Linked DNA regions of Homo sapiens. The protein of the gene in region 1 purifies or fractionates together with the protein of each later gene. This does not show direct contact. Each region holds a gene or a part of one and is shown on either strand. Other genes may lie near its edges.

The links.
Region 2: the proteins of NOXRED1 (region 1) and MPZL1 purify together in Homo sapiens (affinity purification with mass spectrometry; 3 studies listed by BioGRID and IntAct, with this or other methods). This does not show direct contact.

Annotation. Positions count from the first base shown.
Region 1 is NC_000014.9:77,399,497-77,406,523, reverse strand, and holds part of NOXRED1 (NADP-dependent oxidoreductase domain-containing protein 1), read left to right. Parts: intron 1-388; coding exon 389-611; intron 612-7,027.
Region 2 is NC_000001.11:167,759,982-167,767,008, forward strand, and holds part of MPZL1 (myelin protein zero-like protein 1 isoform a precursor), read left to right. Parts: intron 1-5,601; coding exon 5,602-5,768; intron 5,769-7,027. UniProt on the Homo sapiens protein: Cell surface receptor, which is involved in signal transduction processes. Recruits PTPN11/SHP-2 to the cell membrane and is a putative substrate of PTPN11/SHP-2.

The DNA of each region.
Region 1 (7,027 bases):
AGGACAAATTAAAACCAAAAGAGGAGATAGCTTATTTCAATAGGAGGATGTAATGTTGGACTAAAATGGCTTTTCCCTGTTCTAATCTTGTAGTTTTCCCCAGTTCCTTCTCCATATTAGCAACGACTATTCCAGAGACACTTTTTGCCATTAGCAATGTCTACATTAGTTGTATCTGTCCACTTTTGGGATGGTCAACACATGATGTGTTATAAAGGGCACAAGTAGCACTTGTGGCTCAGGAAGGAATGTTTGCTTATCTTGTGGTTCATATTACCAATCTGTCTTGGAAAAAAGGCGGCTATTCACTGTCAGGGGTTTATTCTAGGTTTTCTGCAACTCATTTTTGGTGGTGCTAACTGGTATTTACCTTCTCATTGATGTGTAGGGGGAATAATCCTCAATATCAAGTGGTTGGAGGGAGTGTTCTATGCGGCCCTAAACATATGCACAGCAAGAAACATGGCCCACTCCCAAGTGCTGCAGCTTCTGAGTGAACTCTTTCTCTCCGTGCACTTTGAAGACTGTGGGAAAGACACAGCATCTTGCCCAAAGTTGCAATTAACAGATTTTGTCAGCAAAGCCTATGGCAAGAATTTGTCTCAGGAAAGGTAAGGGCATTGGACAGCTGGCCATTCTCATTTCTCCCAGACTCTTCTCTTAGTTAATGCTTTTTTTCTTTTATCCTTTCATGTTCTCTTTAAACATTGATAAAAATTATACCTTTTTGTAAAGAATTTCAACTAGTGGAAAAGTAAATGCCATCCTTTGCCTTCCAAATCCCATTTCATAGATTTCACCTCTAACAGTTTTTATATTTTTATCTATGCATTTACAAACATTTATATTGTTATAATGTATATGCATATCTATTCCTATATATACAGTGTTAGACACATGGGAACTATATATTCTGCTTTTTTACTTACTGTATCACAGCTACCATTCTATGTTAGTACAATCATAGCTACTTCATTTATGAGCAGCTACCTAGGTGTCCACCGGACACATTTATTCCATTAAATTTATTCACTCCTTTTCCACTTGATAGAGATGTAGTTCCTCCTCTCATCCCCAATTTTGCATTACGGGCTGCTTTGACATTCTTTATTTTATTTTATTTTATTTTGTGAGACAGTCTTGCTCTGTCACCCAGGCTGGAGTGCAGTGGCACGATCTCGGCTCACTGCAACCTCTGCCTCCCGGCTTTAAGTGATTCAAGTGCCTCAGCCTCCCGAGTAGCTGGGATTACAGGCATGTGCCACCATGCCTGGCTAATTTTTGTATTTTTAGTAGATACAGGGTTTCGCCATGTTGGCCAGGCTGGTCTCCAACTCTTGACCTCAAGTGATCCGCCCGCCTTGGCCTACCAAAGTGCTGGGATTACAGGTGTGAGCCAGTGCGCCTGGCCTGCTTTGAACATTCTTGTACTTTGTGCACTTGTACCAGTATTTCGGTGGCATATGTGAAAGAAGCTCTGGGTCAAAGTTTATGCATATTTTATATTTGATAGGTGTTCCCAAATTGCTTATAAAAAATGTGGTACTTGTTTACATTTCTACCAACAGCATATGAGGGTGCCACTTCTTTAATATCTGATAACTATCAAATAAATATTTTTGATCTTTGATAATCTAATATGCAAAGATTATTGCTCTTATTACTAGTGACTTCCATGTCACTAGATCCACTGGATGCTTTAAACTCTTTTTCTTCCTTAATTATTGAACATGCCATCCTTCTTGAAGCAGTCTCTTCTCTAGGCTGTCATGATCCCTCCCGTTCTCCTCATTTTCTTCCTGACTCCCCGGCCCCTCCTTGGCTAGCTTCTCCTCTGCCTCACCCTTAAATCTGGGTGTTTTCAGGGCTCTATCCTAGGCCCTTTTCTTTTCATGCTATACTTCTTTTCATTCTATACTTTGTTCCCGGTGATCTTTTCCACTTTGGGGACTTAGGTTCCCATCTTTTCACTGACAGCATATAACTCTGTATCTCTAGCCTAAATGTCAATGCTGTGCCTAGGTAACTGTGTATTCACCATCTCCACTCAAACTCACCATGTCCAAAAACATACCTGCTCTTAAACCTGCTCTTCTGATGTTTCTTACCTAATTATATGCTGCTTCACCAAGTTGTTCAAGTCAGAACCCTAGATGTAATCCTAGATTCTTCTTCCTCATCTTTCGTATTCCAATCAATCATCAATGGACAGTTTATTCTCTATGCCTGTGATTCACGTTTGGTTTGGAGATTTTTCTTCTTCATTATCCCAGGGATTCCCCTCACTTTTCTGTTGTATTGGATCTCTTGTTTCCTGTCATGGAAACATCTCTTGTTTCTCTCTCATGAATTACTTCTTAATTTGGGGGGAACATGTCCTGTAGTACCTTCCTGAGAAAGGGTGCATTGAAATAATTTTCAGAGACTCTTTGAGATGTTTTTATTCTAGCGTTCTATTTTATTGAGAACATAGCCAGGTATAGAATTGCAGGTTGGAAATAATTTTCCCTTAAAATTTTGAGGGATTGCATCTACAGCCATACCACCCTGAACGTGCCTGATATCATCTGATCTCAGAAGCTAAGCAGGGTCGGGCCTGGTTAGTACTTGGATGGGAGAATTTTGAGGCATTGCTTCATTGTCTTTCAGCTTCTAGAGTTGCTACTGAGAGTTACAGTGCCATTCTAATTCTTAATCCTTTGTCTGAAACCTGTTTCTTTCCTTTCTGGAAGCTTATGAGATCTTTTGACCTCAGTATCTTGAAATTTTATGATGTGCCATGATGTAGGTCTATTTTAATTAAATGTTGAGCACTTGGTGGGCCTGTTATTTCCATTAACTTTTTTGTTTTTATTTTTATTTTTTTGATAGAGGGTCTTACTCTGCTGCCCAGGCTGGAATGCAGTGGTGTGTAATGTTGGCTCACTGCAACCTCCACCTCCTGGGCTCACGTGATCTTCCCACCTCAGCCTCCCGAGTAGCTGGGACTACAGGCACACACCACCACGCCTGGCTAATTTTTGTATTTTTAGTGATAAGTCTATCAAGCAATATAGTGTCTGGGATTGCCTTCAAAATAATCCAATAGATGGGGGTAAAGGAGTAGGGGTGGGGTTTTGTATGAGAAAAGATTAGCTATAAATTGATAATTGTTAAATCTGAGTGATAGGCATATGGAGTTTCGTTATACTATTTTTTGTTATATTCTTTTTTACTTAATACTATTCTATGTTTCATTCTATTTTGTTTTAAAATTTCCATAATAAAAACAAAAGGTTTCCTTCTAGTAGTTTGTCAACCCTAATTTACTCATCCCAATTTTATTCTTCTCAAGTTTTAAGAAAATCTATTTCAAATTTTATCAGTTTCCCTTTTAAGCATTTAATGAGATTTTTGTTTCTCCTCTCCTTTAAGATTGTAATATTTAATTAATGTTGTAAACTATATAGTTTTCCTGTCAAATTTTCCTTGTATTCTTTTTTTTTTCTGAGACGGAGTTTCACTTCTGTTGCCCAAGCTGGAGTGCAATGGTGTGATCTCGGCTCACTGCGATCTCTGCCTCCTGGGTTCAAGCGATTCTCCTGCCTCAGCCTCCCAAGTAGCTGGGATTACAGGCATGCACCACCACACCCGGCTAATTTTTTGTGTTTTTAGTAGAAATGGGGTTTCACCATGTTAGCAGGCTGGTCTCAAACTCCTGACCTCAGGTGATGCCCACCTTGGCCTCCCAAAATACTGGGATTACAGGCATGAACCACCATGCCTGGCCTGATGTGTAGCATCTTTTCATATGCTTATTGACCATTTGTATATTGTCTTTGGTGAAGTGTCTGTTAAGGTCTCTGGCCCATTTTTAAATTGGTTTGTGTTCCTATTGTTGAATTTTTTTGAGACGGAGGTTTGCTCTTGTTGCCCAGGCTAGAGTGCAATGGCACGATCTCGGCTCACCGCAACCTCTGCCTCCCGGGTTCAAGTGATTCTCCTGCCTCAGCCCCCCGAGTAGCTGGGATTACAGGCATGCACCACCATGCCTGGCTAATTTTTGTATTTATATATTTTTAATAGAGATGAGGTTTCTCCATGTTAGTCAGGCTGGTCTTGAACTCCCGACCTCAGGTGATCCGCTCACCTTGGCCTCCCAAAGTGCTGGGATTACAGGCGTGAGCCATGGCGCCCGGCTCCTATTGTTGAATTTTAAGAGTTCTTTGTATGTTTTGGAAAACAGTCCTTTATCTGTCTTCTGCAAATATTTTCTCTAGTCTGTGGCTTATGTTTTCATTCTCTTGACAGTGTCTTTCACAAAGCAGAGACTTTTAGTTTTAGTTATTTAAATTCTTTAATTATGTCCACCTTGTCAATTGTTTTTTTCATGGATCATGCCTTTGGTGTTAACAACTATAAAGTCACTGCCAAAGCCAAGATCATCTAGATTTTCTCCTATGTTATCTTCCAGGAGTTTTATAGTTCTGCATGTGACACATTTTGACTTAACTTCTGTGAAGGGTGTAAGGTTTGTGTCTAGATTCATTTTTTCTTTTTTGCATGTAGATATCCAAGTGCTTCAGTACCATTTGTGAAGAGACTGTCTTTTCTCCATTATATTGCTTTTGCTCCTTTGTCAAAGAGCAGTTAACTATATTTATGCGGGTCTATTTCTGGGCTTTCTATTCTATTCCACTCTATTTGTCTTTCACCAATACTGCACTGTCATGATTACTGTAGCTTTAAAGGATGTCTTGAAGTTGGGTAGTGTTACTCCTCTGACTTTGTTCTTCCATTTCAATACTGAGTTGGCTATTCTGAGTCTTGTTTGTTGTTGAGACAAGGTCTTGCTCTGCTGCCCCAGCTGGGGTGCAGTGGCACGATCATGGCTCACTGCATCCTCAACCTTCTGGGCTCAAGCAATCCTCCCACTTCAGCTTCCTGAGTAGCTAGAACTACAGAACTACAGGTGCACACCATTGTGCCCAGCTGATTTTTTATATTTTTTTGTAGAGATGGGATCTTGCTATGTTGCCCAGGCTGGTCTCAAGCTCCTGGCCTCAAGTGATCCTCCTGCCTCAGCCTCCCAAAGTGCTGGAATTACAGGCATGAGCCGTCACACCCAGCCTGTTCTGAGTCTTTTGCTCTTCCATTTAAACTTTTTTTTTTTGAGGTGGAGTCTTGTTCTGTTGCCCATGCTGGAGTGCAGTGGCGCCATCTTGGCTCACTGCAACCTCTGCTTCCTGGGTTCAAGCAATTCTCTTGCCTCAGCCTCCCCAGTAGCTGGGATTACAGGCACCCGCCACCATGCCCAGCTAATTTTTGTATTTTAGTAGAGATGGGGTTTCACCATGTTGGCCAGGCTGGTCTCAAACTCCTGACCTCGTGATCCACCCACCTCGGCCTCCCAAAGTGCTGGGATTACAGGCATGAGCTGCTGCACCTGGCCCCATTTAAACTATAGAGTCAATTTTTCAATATCCACAAAATAATTTCCTGGGATTTTGATTGGCATTGCGTTGAATGTGTAGTTCAGTTGGGAAGAACTGGCATCTTTATAGTATTGAGTCTTCTTCTCCATGAACATGAAATCTCTATATTTATTTTGTTGTTTTTAGACTTCTCTCATCAGTTTCATAGTTTTCCTTATGTAGATCTTGCACATATTTCATTTGATTTATACCTAAGTATTTCATTTTGGGGGTTCTAATATAAATGGTAATGTGTTTTTAATTTTAAATTCCACTTGTTCATTGCTGGTATATAGAAAAGACACTGACTTTTGCATATTAATCTTGTATCCTACAACTTTGCAACATACATTTAAACATTTGCCCTATTGCTTCACTAAGCCATTCTAAGTCATAAGAGACTATTCCTGTAAATTGTGTATTCAGTGAAAGGCTCATCAAAAACTCAGAAGAATAAAACCGTTTGTCTCTTATCTACCTATGACCTGGAAACCCCCGCCCCACTTGAAGTTGTCCCACCTTTCCAGACCAAACCAATGTACATCTTACATATAGTGATTGATGTCTCCTGTATTCCTAAAATGTATAAAACCATGCTGTGCCCCGACTACCTTGGGCACATGTCATCAGAACCTCCTGAGGCTGTGTCACGGGCACATAGCCACAACCTCGGCAAAATAAACTTTCTAAATTGACTGATGCTTGTCTCAGATACTTTCTGGTTTACAGTGTTATCTGTTAGATCAGTTAGGAGTAAGAAAAACTAAAGTTATCTTCACTTGTTCCTTCTTCAGTGCTCTTCTTTTCTTTATGTAGATCCGTGTTTCTGACCTATATCATTTTCCTCCTAAGGAACTTCTTTGAACATTTCTTGCAAGACAGGTCTACTGGCAACAAATTCCCTCAATTTTTGTTTGGTAAAGTCTTTATTTCTCCTTCACTTTAGAAGGATAACTTTGCACAGAGTTCTAGGTTAGTGATTTTTTTTCTTCCTGCACTTTAAATATTTCACTGCACTCTCTCCTTGCTTGCATGATCCTAAAAATCAGCTTTCTTATCTTTGTTTTTCTATGGGTATGGTGTTTTTTTTCCCTCTGGCTTATCTCAAGATTTTTTGTTTTTCTGTAGTCTCAAAATGATATGTTTAGGTATAGTTTCTTGTGTGTTTTTGTTATTTATCCTGCTTGGTGTCTTCTTGAGCTTCCTAGATCTGTGGTTTGGTGTCTGACATTAATTTGGGGGAAATTCTCAGTCATTATTGTTTCAAATATTTCTTGTGTCCTTTCTCTCCTCCTTCTAGTCTCATTATGCGCATGTTACATCTTTTGTAGTTGTCCCACAGTCCTTGGATATTTTGTTCTGTATTTTTCGTCTTTGTTTTCTTTGCTTTTCAGTTTTGGAGGTTTCTGTTGAGATATCCTCAGATTCAGAGATTATTTCCTCGGCCATGAACAGTCTACTAATAGGGGCCTCAAAGATATTCTTCATATCTGTCACAGTGTTTTTAATGAGTAGTATTTATTTTTGGTTCCTGGAACTTCCATCTTTCTGCTTCCGTAGTCTGCCGTCTACTT
Region 2 (7,027 bases), on another chromosome or scaffold:
TTTGAGTAGAAGAGTGATATGATCCAACCTGAATTTTAATGAGATCTCTTTGGCCTCTCTGTGGACTAGTTGCTGTGAAGTGGGGAAGGCTGAAGGAGGCAGACACCAATTAGGAAGCTATCAATACTTAATCCAGGTGAAAGATGACAGTGGCTTGGACCAAGATGGTGACACCAAATGAGGCAGAGAGAGATCAATTTCTAGATAGGTTTCTTTTGTTTTGTTTTGTTTTGTTTTTTGAGACAGAGTCTCGCTCTGTCACCCCGCCCAGAGTGTAGTGGTGTGATCTCAGCTCACTGCAAGCTCCGCCTCCCGGGTTCACGCCATTCTCCTGCCTCAGCCTTCCGATTAGCTGGTACTACAGGCGCCCGCCACCACACCAGCTAATTCTTTTGTATTTTTAGTAGAGACGGGGTTTCACCATGTTAGCCAGGATGGTCTTGATCTCCTGACCTCGGTGTTCCGCCCACTTTGGCCTCCCAAAGTGCTGGGATTACAAACGTGAGCCACCGCACCCGGCCCCTCTAGATAGGTTTCTAAGTAGAGATGACATGTGTAGCTGACAGCTTGGAGGAAAGTTGTGCAAAAGAGAGGAGTCACAAAACAGTCCAGGGTTTTGGTCTCAGCCACTAGAAAACTGGTGTTACCATTTACTGATTTGGAGAAGACCATGGAAAGGAAGTTTGGGGGGTGGGAATCAGGAGTTTAATTTGGACATATTAAATTTGAGATGATGCCAATTACATCCAAGCAAAGTTGAATAGGCTGTGTGTGTGTGTGTGTGTGTGTGTGTGTGTGTGTGTGTGTGTGTGTACAGGTGTCATCAGCATTTGAAACTGAGTGAGGTCACCAAGAGAAGGAATGTTAAATAGATACGCAGTCAGAGAAATGATCTGGGCTCTTAATCATATAGAGGTCAGGAGAACCAGGGAAGGAGCAGTCAATGAGATAAGAGAATCAAGAGGGAGAGGCATTCCAAAAGCCAAACTGTTAAAAAACAAAAAAAAAGGTTTTAGCAGGGAGTAACTTTCAAAGGTTTTAGATAGGGCAATAAGACAAGATTTGAGAATTAACCATGGAGGTCATTGCATTCCTTAACAAAAACAGTTTCTATGGAGTAACGGAGATGAAAGCCTAAATTGGATTTATCCAAGAGAACAGAAGAGGAGAGAAATTGGACACAGTGTGTACAGACAGTTCTTTCAAGATTGATAAAATAAAGGAGGACAAAGGGGCCAGAGCTGCAGGGAGATGCAGGGTCAAGGTTTTTTTTCTCTAAACCTGGGATATAAATATAAATATGTATGTTTATATTGCTGCTGGTGGTAATTCAGTAGTGAGTGAAAAATTCAGAAGAGGGAGAATTGCTGGATCAATAAATGTCCTTAGGTAGGCAAGAGATGAGATGCAATGTGCAGTGGAGAGGTTCATCCTGGAGAGGGATGCAGACAGACACTTTCTACATAGGAGTGCAGGGAAAGCAGAATGGGCACAGATGCAGGGAGGTGGGTAGCTATGGTGTCTGGACATAGGGAGGTTCTCTTCTCATTGCTTCTGTTTTCTCGGTGAAATAAGCAGCTCAGTCATTAGCTGGGAGTGAGAAACCAGAGGAAGTGGAAATTTGAGGTTAGAGAGGAAGGTTTAAACTAGTCCTCTAGGGAAATGGAAAGCAGATGGATTAGGGCAATGTGGGTGGATTGCTAGACAGCATTAAGAGTCCCTTTAAGGTTAGTGACCATACATTTAAGGCGAAAATAGTCAGTGGGATTGTGTGCTTTTGTCCAGCTGTGGTCAGCCACCCTGGTGGAGATGCATAGTGGATAGAGAATTGAATTTAACCAGGATAGAGGTTCCAGGTGAAGGCCCTGAAGGGAGAGGCAAGAGAGCTGATTGTGTATGCAAGGGGGTGAGTATAATGGTGGCCTATGGGGTTTAGTCTGAGTAAGGCAAATGAAGACATGCTGGGATTTTAGTTTCTGATGCAGCTTAGGGATCAGTGAACTCAGGGTTTTGGAGGATATTGGAAAGCTAAGAGGTGGTCAATTAGGGAGTAGAGAAGCCTGAAACTACGATTCTGGAGTGGGTGCAGGTACTGATGATTGGGTCTAGAGCTAGTGATTCTCAACTGGGGGGATTTCACCTCTGAGGAGGCATTTGCAATGTCTGGAGACATTTTTGGTTGTCACAACTGGAGGCAGAGGAGATACTGCTGTCATCTAGTAGAGGCCAGGGGTGCTGCTCAACATCCTACAAGGTATAGCACAGTTTCCCACAACAAAGGATTGTCTGTGGCAGTTGTCAGTAGTGCTGAGGTTGAGAAGCCCTGGTTTAGGGTATAAAAGAAAAACTTCAGCTGAATTAAATTTAAAGGAGTTTAACTGAACAAAGAATGAACTGCGAATTGGGCAGCCTTCTGAGCCAAGGTAGGCTCAGAGACGCCAGCGCAGCCACGTGGCGGAAGAAGATTTATGGACAGAAAAAGGAAAGTGATGTACAGAAAACGGGAGTGAGGTACAGAAACAGCTGCATTGATTATAGCTCAGCATTTGCCTTACTTGAACACAATTTGAACAGTTGGCTACATTTGATTGGCCAAAACTCGGTGCTTGGCCCAAGGTGATTGGCTACGGCCTGTTTACACCTACACTTGTTATAGTTCACAGTGTACAGAAAAACCCTTAGGCTGAACTTAAAATATGTAAGGAGGCAGCTTTAGGCTAAACTTGATTGAACAGGTATGACCATAGAAATGAGTGGCTGGGGTAGGCCTGATCTTACCCAGATTATTGGAGAAGATAAACAGACTAGGGTTTTAGAAGGTTTATCTTACAACTGATGAAATCTCCAAAAATGATGACAAGAGTAGTATTAGAGAAAAGTGTAGATAGCCAGGGATGGGAGGAAGTTAATTTCTCAGTGTGTGGCATCATTTTCTTTTTCTTGAGCTAGCTGATGGGCTAGCTTTGGATTTCATAATCCTGGCTAAGAGCTACACGTTCAGATTAGCCAAAGAGTGTTGTGTGTTTTTTAAAAAGCCACCTGTTTATTACCTAACTTTGGTATAATGAAATCTGTGTCTTAAATAGATGCCTAAAAGCCATTTGGGAATTTGGTTAGTCTTTTTGCTCAAAATTCTGTGACTGTAAACTTGGACACTTGGTCTAATTCCATCTTTAAATAATGTCTCGGGATGACAAGTCTTGCAGCTAGGCCTCGAGGAAGGGATCTGGTTTAAGAAAATCCTTGAAGAAGGCTGGGTGCGGTGGCTCACGCCTGTAATCCCAGCACTTTGGGGGGGCCGGGGCTGGTGAATCACCTGAGGTCAGGAGTTCGAGACCAGCCTGGGCAACATGGTGAAACCCCGTCTCTACTAAAAATACAAAAATTAGCTGGGCGTCGTGGTGGGTGTCTGTAATCCCAGCTACTCGGGAGGCTGAGGCAGGAGAATTGCTTGAACCCAGGAGGCGGAGGTTGCAACACTGCACTCCAGCCTGAGTGACAAGATTGAGACTCGGTCTCAAAAAAAAAAAAAAGAAAGAAAGAAAAGAAAATCCTTGAGAAACTTTATTTATAGACTTTTAGAGACTGTGGCTTTCCAGTACTCATCACCATGGAGAAAACTAGTCAAAATCACACAGAGTGAATAAGGGTTGCAAGCCAGTGCTGCTTCCTGGAATAAGCTGGTCCACTAGTCTAGTCTTGTGCTTTGTCCTTCATTTTGAACTCAAGTGCCCTGGGGCTGCTTTTCTGCGTACCCACAATAGCAAGGAACTCTTTTGTTTGCATCTCCTCTGAAAGAAATGCTTGTTTTGAGGTTTGGACCGCAAATAATAATCTATTGTTCCCTGTAATAATAATCCACCCTCTTTCGCAGAAAAAAAAATCTGCTTGATGCAGTATGGCTATCAGTTTATTTAAAAGAATAGCCAAAAGTGCCCATTATGTCCTGAGAATAAACATTTGCAAGATGGTTGGGAGGAATGGGGGAGTACTCTTGTTCTCCTTGGCTGAGAGTCAGTTAAGTCTTCAAGGAGAAAAAATTCTGAAAATGACCATCAGTCCTGGCTGACAATACTCTTCCTTATTCTGCCCGTCTGTTACATTCTAAGAATTATTGCAACACTGCAGATATTTATTCCAAACGATTTCTTTAAAAAATATGGAAGATGGGTATTTTTAAGTTACCAATTTTGGGCCAAATAAGTTTTTTTTTTCTGACTTTCATTTTGTCTGTGAAAGCATTTCTTTTATAGCAGTATGTTCAAATTAGCAATCTTTAAGAATTTGGCAAATACTTTTAACAGCAATCCTTAACAATTCCTGCAGTTGCCTACTATTGCAGATCTTGAAAAAAGAGCCATTTTTATATTCTAAGTGGTAGACACATTTCAATTACTATTTCCTGGGCTTAGGCTAACTGACAAAACTTGATGGGTGAAATGAAAATGTGATATACGGTGTAATCAGCTGTTTACTTACCTAGCACAGTGAAATCTTATGGTAGGTATGATTGCACTAACAAAACCAAAACATGCATTTTTCTTCCTTAAGTTCTTTATAAGAAAAGGATCAGTTAAATAATAAATGTGGCTTTAAAATGAAGTTATATCTTAGGATAGTTTTAATTGCATTACATATGGATGATGAGAAAAGTTCAGTGTGATAACAATTGCGTAACAGATAAGCATGAGAACTACTTAAAGAAATAAAAATATGCCCATCACCTCATTAAAAATAGACCATCAGGGAAGCCACCAAGAAGTCCTTCAGTAGGTGAATGAATAAACTGTGGTACATCCATACAATTTGTATATTATTCAGCAATAAAAAGAAATGAGATATTATGCCACAAAAAGACACGGAAGAAAGTTAAGTGCATATTACTAAGTGAAAGAAGGCAACCTTAAAAGGCTACATGCTGTATAATTTTAACTAGATAACATTCTAGAAAAGGCAAACCTATAGAGACAGTATAAGGTCAGTGTTTGCCAGGGGTGTGGGGGGAAGGACGGCAGGAATAAATTGGTGTAGCACAGGGGATGCTTAGGGAGTGAAACTATTCTGTATGATACTGTAATGGTGGAGACGTCACTATTCACCTTTGTCAAAATCCATAAGATCTACAACACTAACACAAATCCTAATGTAAACTATGGACTGTGGTTAACAATGATGTAACCATATTGGCTCATCAATTAAAACAAACGTATAACACTAATGCCAGATGTTAATAATAGGAGAAACAGGTTGGCCATGGGAGAGTGAGGGAATATGAGAATTCTACCTTCTATTCAATGTTTCTGTAAACCTGAAACTGCTCTTTAAAAAGTCTATTAGTTTAAAAAAAAAATTCAATATAACCAGACTAATAAAAATATCTTAACTAAAAAGCAATACAAACCTAAACTGTCAGCAATTATTCTGTTTATAGTGCTATTCTGATTGAACTTAGCTGTAGAATATTCTGCCAGAAATATGTAATGGCAGTGAATTACTGTATATATCTAGTAACTTTGCTGTATCTTTTCTTGTCTGGCAAAAATGCACAGTGGTATTCATGTTAAGTCCTACTTTCAACTACCCTTATTCCTTTCTCTTCAGTGACAGCTGGAGTATCAGCCTTGGAAGTATATACGCCAAAAGAAATCTTCGTGGCAAATGGTACACAAGGGAAGCTGACCTGCAAGTTCAAGTCTACTAGTACGACTGGCGGGTTGACCTCAGTCTCCTGGAGCTTCCAGCCAGAGGGGGCCGACACTACTGTGTCGGTAAGAATGCTTGACTTCTCTTGGCTAGTCCTGCCTCACAGGTTTCTTTACTGCTGTATAATTGGTGATCCATTTTTCTGATGGTTCATTTCCAAAATGAGTGTATTTTTTATCTGTTATAGACTTCAAGGCCCTTCTTTTGCTTCAGGATAAAATAAGTTCAGCATCTCTTAAATGCGTCTGGTTTCCTTGTCTTTGATCAGTTCCTCTCCACCATCAAATCCCATTCTGAAATTGATCTTAATTGACCACACTGACTCTAATCAGGATTTATCCTGCATCTTTTCATCTTTTATTGCCCCATATTTATTGATATTTGTTTTATGTATTATCAAATTTTATATATATATGTATGCATCTTCTGATTTGATTATCTTTTTTTAATTTAGCGTATAGTCCATCTGATTTAGCAATATTGATTTGGGAGCTTACTATGTAGTGGGTTATGTAGGGCCTTCAAAAATGTCTAAAACAGAATCCTTGCTCTCACCTAGAGATGATTAGGAGGAAGGCTGATATATAGATGACTTTGGAGTAAGATAAAGGATGTAACAGAAATACAGCACCAGAGCATTGAAAAAAGGTTATTTAGTAACTAGTGGAGTGCTGGTTATTAAACATGAACTGACTATCTTGGTTCTGGTCTGTAAAATGGAGACGATAAAACCTCCCACACAAGGGTGTTAGGAGGATAAAGTAAGATTATTCAAGATAAGTGCTCAGGAGAGTGTCTAGCTCTTGAGTTACTAAAATACACCATTTGTTGTTACTGTTGCTCTCCCAGCATGTGGAATGCCCTTCATATATTGGCACATATTTTAGTACTGTTGCATGTTTCAGGTTGTCAGTGTTTAGCAAGGACAGTCTGTCATCTATCTTTAAGAATGCCCAATTCTTCTTCTGAATGGTGAGTTACATTGTTGATCACCACCTAGATGTTGGGCCCATCATATGCCTATGCCATTTAATCTTCACAGCTCTATGAGGAAGACAGGGTGGGGAGGATGGGAGACACTGACTCAAGAGTTATTCACCTGTGGCCATACCACACAGGTTAGAATTGTTTAAACTTCAATACGGTATGATTTCCCTTATGTATTATTTCTCTCTCAGGTAGAAAAATCTGCTAATAATATTTACGGCCTCATAGGTTTTAGGGATTACCTAAGGCAGTGCTTCTCAGTATTTTTTAAAATTTATTTTTAAAAGGAGCCTTTTCACATTTTTCTTAATCTCTGCCCCCTTCCATGAAATTTTAA